Regions from separate parts of the Homo sapiens genome. Here region 2 is linked to region 1. The links come from fine-mapping of genetic effects on gene expression. A gene starts in region 1. The other region holds a variant in brackets. All regions are shown on one strand. Distances are between the middles of the regions.

The links. PIP is the estimated chance that this variant, and not a neighbour inherited with it, causes the effect.
Region 2: its variant is the best candidate, but not a certain one, in a credible set for the expression of G3BP2 in whole blood (INTERVAL, PIP 0.86).

What each region holds. Positions count from the first base shown.
Region 1 is chr4:75,671,834-75,674,749 of GRCh38, reverse strand. It overlaps G3BP2 (G3BP stress granule assembly factor 2), which reads left to right and starts at 1,339. Exons shown (of 12, transcript NM_203505.3): 1 at 1,339-1,542. RefSeq lists enhancers at 1-503, 1,240-1,529, 1,810-2,049, 1,482-2,459.
Region 2 is chr4:75,617,141-75,620,056 of GRCh38, reverse strand. The region is part of intron 2 of CDKL2 (cyclin dependent kinase like 2); the gene reads left to right. Among named protein-coding and RNA genes, the nearest start is that of CDKL2, 12 kb to the left of the region's middle. The variant T/A (reference allele first, on the strand shown) is at 1,467.

The sequences.
Region 1 (2,916 bases):
CTCCATCTTAAAAAAAAAAAAAAAAAAAAAATATATATATATATATATATATATGTACATACATATAGCAACTAGCTCATAGGGTTACTGTGAGGCTCAGAAGGCTGTATAATTACAAGAATGCCTGGTATATAAGCCCAGTATATTAAAGGACAGCCGGCATGTAATGTATTTTGATGCTTTAAGGAAAAACATCAGGTTGATTTCATTAAAGTGATGGTCTGCCCAAATATTTTGCATATAACAGTATCTTTAAGCAGTCTAAAGGTAAAGATATTGTAGACTTTGGAGGCCCTAATGTTGGCATTGCCTCTGCCAATATTTAAGGTATTTGACGTATTGTCTTAACATGCCAAATACCTTAAAATTGCCCTTACAGGATTGCGAAGAAAACTGATGAGATGTACATGCTTGCGTCCACCATGTTTAGTTCGTAAGCATTCATTAATGTATTTTTTCCTTTCCGTTTCTTTGAACACTTCCTCAGTCCTTCATTCCAAAATTCCTGTGCTATCTCGGTATTCTCTGAAAACACTGCCAGACCTAAGATGCAAAGTGGCTTCCTTGACTACAAGATTTGGCTTGGCTTTGTCCATGAAACAAGGTCACCAGTGTCTCACCCTGGGGGCAAGTCTGGGCTTAGAGCTAGAACAGGACTGTAATCCTTGTATTTCAGGCCTTCTTTTAGCTTTAGTATGTAAAATGCTTTAGTATCTACTGATATTTAGCCATGCCTAAATTCGTAACAAGGACACAAAGAAATAGTCTTTTCCCCCTCTGTAAAGCCCACGTCATGTTCTTCCTTTACTGCAGGGCCTCTTAATGGGGCTTAAAACCTAGGATGGGTTAAGTAAACAATGTAGGTGAGTTTAGTGTGCAAACAGCTGAAATCACCGGCTGCATTTTAAGCTCGTCTACAGCAGCAACCTGCAGACACCTATTCAGAGAGATTACTAAATTCCCTCCTTCCCATTAATAAAAAGGACCAGAATATCAGTCTACAAAAGACACTGCGTTGCTGCGAACCAGCTCTCGCTTGCGCGATCAGGAAGAAGGGCGGCAAGGCTGGAGCCTCGGGACCGGAGAAAGGCAGCCTGCTTGTGACGTCAAATCAGCGGACTCTTATCTTGGCTTTAGGCCGGTTCCGGTTCCCCGGCTTTCCGGGCGCGAGCGTGTGCGAGCGCGGCAGCGTACTGCGCGTGCTCCGCAGAGGGACACGGGAAGGTTGGGTCCGGCTCTGGAGGAGATGCGTGATTGGCTGACGCTGTGCTCGGGGGTTCCCTGGCCCTTTCGGCAGGGGTAAAACAATAAGAGGGGGCGGTGGCAAAGGGGGCGGGACGTCCGTGGTCCTTGTCGCACGTCGCAGCGCCTGGCGCCCGGGAAGAGGTGGTTGTGAGGCAGACGAACTCGCGGCTCTCCGGCTTCCGAGGCTTCCGAGTTGTCGGAGGAAGGGGGCGGCGAGCAATAAGAACCCGCCGCACCCGGTCCTCAGCGACTCTTCTGACCTCCGCGCGACGTACCCGCCGCCGCCGTTGGCTGGAGGTGTGTACGGGCGCCGGGAGGGGAGGTCGGTGTGGTGGTCGGAAAGGGACATTCCATTCGCGCTCCGCGGCGCGAGGCAATCGTCCGGTGTGTGAGCCCGGGAGCCGGAGGTGTAGCGGCAGAGACATTGTTCTTGCCGGCTCCCTACGGTGCCGTGTGTGCGTGAGAGAAGACCAGTCTTTCCTCTAGGTGAGGGGTGGGAGGCCGCCTGGGAAGGGAGGTGACCCGCGAGCGTCTTGCGGGCAGAGGGCTCCGAGTGCACAGGTGGGGTTGAGGTTTATTGGGGATGAGGTGGCGAAGTGGGGGGGGAGGCACGCAGCAGCTCCCGAAGGCGCGCTGATGGAAGCTTAATACAGGAAGTGTGGGAGCAGGCTTTCTGGAGGGGATGTTTTAGGGTGGGTAGCCCACCGTTCCTGTTTCCGAATCGTTTTCGGCTCTTGTACCTTGTTCCTTCGGAGCGGAGAGGCCGTCGCCACCCCGCCCGTGGGGGGAGGGGAAAAGAGGTTGTGTCGACGGAGGCAGAAGCGACGCAGATGCGAAAGTGGCGGCCTCCGGGCACCATTTCTGTGCACGGAAACAGAATCCGGGTTTGAAGGCAGCCGCCGCTTCGCTTACCCAGTACCTAGTGTTCCGTCGTGTTTGACCAACCCCCCTCTCCCTGCCACCGCGGGTTTAATCCGAACGTGTTCGGATACTGGAACTGTAACGTGCGCCTTCTTCGTCCCCCTCTTATGCAGACGATCCCTTATTGACTCGGGAATGGCTTTTGGGGGATGGGTTCCCGCTTTTGTTGGGATGGGGGGACAGAAAGGAACAGAAGCTTCCCTAGATTGTGTTGATTTTGTTAGTGGAATCTGATAGAATTTTTCCTGCGTCTCTAAAAGCAGATTTCTTAAGATGGCCCTTTGCCGCTTTGGGGCGAATATAGATTTTCGTCTATAATTTCCTGCATAGATCAGCTTTTTTCCCCAAGACATACTTAATGTTCTAACGGATTTGGGGGGTGGGAGGAGAGTGCCTTTTCCTTCATAACAACAACAAAAAAAAGGCACTTGCACTTTTAGCTGGAATAGTAAAGTCCTGTTCTCCCTGTATGATTGTTGTGGGATATTAACTTGGATTAAGATACTGTGGTTTTAGGTTCAAGGCTCTGTACCTTGTTCTGGTCTTTCAAACGTTAGTGTTGCAGGTACCTGGATCTAGGAAACATTAACTGTCGTTAAGAGAGCCCCGGTGTACTAGAGTGGGAGATGATGGCAATTTTTCTCTAGCTCCATATTTGGCAGTTAATATAGCCTTAGGCATGTGAACCAAGTTTCTAAGTAAACTTTTGGCCCTGTTAGCATCCAGTGGTCTTTTTGATAATCCAAGATT
Region 2 (2,916 bases), 55 kb after region 1:
GTGCCACCATGCCCAGCTAATTTTTTTAATTTTTTGTGGAGACAGGGTCTCAGAATGTTGCCCAGACTAGTCTCAAACTACTGAGCTCAAGCAATTTTTCTGCCTCAACCTACCCAAATGCTAGAATCATAGGCGGGAGCCACCACGCCTGTCCTGAAAGATTACTTTTTAAAAATAATTTGAGGCTAAGGTAAAAATATTTTTCTCCACAGACAATTTTTATTTCATTCTTCCATGTTCATGGGCACTGTGCCAGTAATCAATTTATTGTCTCTCAACTCCAAATCACTCCTTTTTTTTACCTACTTTGTGATATTAGAACTGGACTCTGTAAACATTTCTTTTTTATTGCCCGCTGATTTGATTTTAGGTTTTGTCAACAGATAGAGGGCATGGAAAGACATTGTCGGTCCTTAGCAAGAGGAAGAGACTTTTCTTCCAGCTTCTGGTGTGCTTTTTTTTTTTTTTTTTTTTTTTTTATACAGCTGTGAGCCCATCACCATGTGGGAGGTCTGTTAGCTCACTTCAGCATCTTTCAAGTACCAGTTCTGGCCTACCTGCACATTCTGGTGAGTTTCTCTACCAACTGCTGGCCACTCTACAAACCATCTCTGGCCTGTGTGCTCTGGTGAATTTTTTCACTATTGGCAATCTTTAGATTTTTGTGGCTGCTGGGCCATTTCCAATGAGGACTATGTGTCTGGTGGTTATTGGGGGCTCTTCTACATTTTTAGTTCCTTCTTGTCCCTATGTATTTTCCTTCAGCCCTAAAAGTGGGGCTTCCTGTATTTGCTAGTTTAAACATATCCCTTACAGTCTTCTTTTACCCCCTTTAGTAATTAACTACCCTTCATAATGAAAAATATTTACATTAAAATTTTCCCAGTTCTGGTTTCTGTCTGATACAAGCACACTACCAGCTCAGGACCTCCTTAGTAAGTTCAAAGTTCTTGCTTATAGTCTCTTTTTATCTTGTGTTTCTCATTATCCTTTAGAATTGAATGTTGTTTTTGAAATTTTATTTGTAGAAATATTTTGAGGCTAAGGTAGGGTTTTCTTTGTCCAGAGGTGATATTCATTTGCTTCTGACAGGTACATGGAGATGCTCCCAGTCCAGTATGTGAATCCATGTTCAAGGCTTTTAGTTCCTTGAACGTGATGTTAAATTAAGTCTAGTGATGCCTCGTTTATTTCTGTTCATTTTCACTCTGGAGGATGTAGTTTTTTGGGTCCTAGCTTTAATTGGAGGTGGTTTCTCAGATATCCCACCTTTAGAAGGCTTTTGGACTTTGGCTTTTCCCTTTTAGCCCTGGGGAGCCACAAAAATCAAAGCTCATTTCCACACTTGTTACTTGATGTCAAAATTAGCTTTGAGTCCCGAGGTTAACTCTCTGGATTCTCATGTTCTTGATTTTAGCCCAGTAATCCTCACTGTCGTTTTAGCCTTTTATATGTTTAAGAAGATT[T/A]TTTGAAAATTAATCCAACTTTTAAAGAATTTTCAATGGCTGGGCGCGGCAACTCACGCTTGTAATCCCAGCACTTTGGGAGGCCAAGGCGGGCGGATCACCTAAGGTTGGGAGTTCCAGACCAGCCTGACCAACACGGAGAAACCCCGTCTCTACTAAAAATACAAAATTAGCTGGGCATGGTGGCGCATGTCTGTAATCCCAGCTATTCGGGAGGCTGAGGCAGGAGAATTGCTTGAACCTGGCAGGCGGAGGAGGTTGCGATGAGCCGAGATCGCGCCATTGCACTCCAGCCTGGGCAACAAGAGCGAAACTCCGTCTCAAAAAAAAAAAAAAAAAAAAAAAAAAAAAGAATTTTCAATTGGAGGCCTGGTCTGAGTTACTCAGTCTGCCATTACCAAAGAAGGTAACCATCTGCCATTAAAAATATAAGCACAAAGACAGAGAACCTGTGGAGCTGATAGTCTGTGCTTTTTTTTTTTTTTTTTTTGAGACAGAGTCTCGCTCTGTTGCCCAGGTTGGAGTGCAGTGGCACGATCTCGGCTCACTGCAACCTCCGCCTCCTGGGTTCAAGCGATTCTCATGCCTCAGCCTCCTGAGTAGCTGGGACTACAGGCACCTGCCACCACGCCTGGCTAATTTTTGTATTTTCAGTAGAGACAGGGATTCACCATTTTGGCCAGGCTGATCTTGAACTCCTGACCTCGTGATCCGTCCGCCTTGGCATCCCAAAGTGCTGGGATTACAGGCATGAGCCACCATGCCCGGCCGATAGTCTGTTTTAATTATGATTGCAGGTTTGGAGCTACTGTGGAAATCTTTGCAAGAAGGACTTGACATAGAGTAGAGAAAGATAAATTATCTGGTGCTATAGTGTGAATTTTTAAAGAGTAAAAAGTTTTAGTGTAATGTTTTCTTCTATTAGAAATGTGCCAAAACAGCCCAATGGAACAAGTGACATTCTAGTATTATTTAGATTTCTTAATTTGATAAAATAGAACTTGTCAGAATTTATAGTTCCATTAGGATATGAAATTTGTGGGTTTTGGGGCATTTTTGTTGGTTTGTTTAGTTTTTTTGGTTTTTTTGAGAAGGTGTTTTAATCATGCCTCTACCAGTTATTGCTGTGTGACCTTGGACAAGTTCCTTGACCTCTGTGTGAGTTAGTTGCTTCAGCTATAAAGCAGGATAATAATTGTACCTATTTCATAAGGCTTTTGTGCTTAGAATAGTACCTGGAACATAGTAAGCATTGTGTAAGTATTAGTTATTATTATGTATAATATCATACTCTTTTATAACTTTTATTTTTTTCTTGGCAACGCTTCTTTTACATTGTAAAATGTCTGTTTTAAGGGAAGGCAGGGTAGAAGTTTGTGTTTTTTTTTAACTTTTAAGTTCAGGGGTACATGTGCAGGATGTACAGGTTTGTTACATAGGTAAACATGTG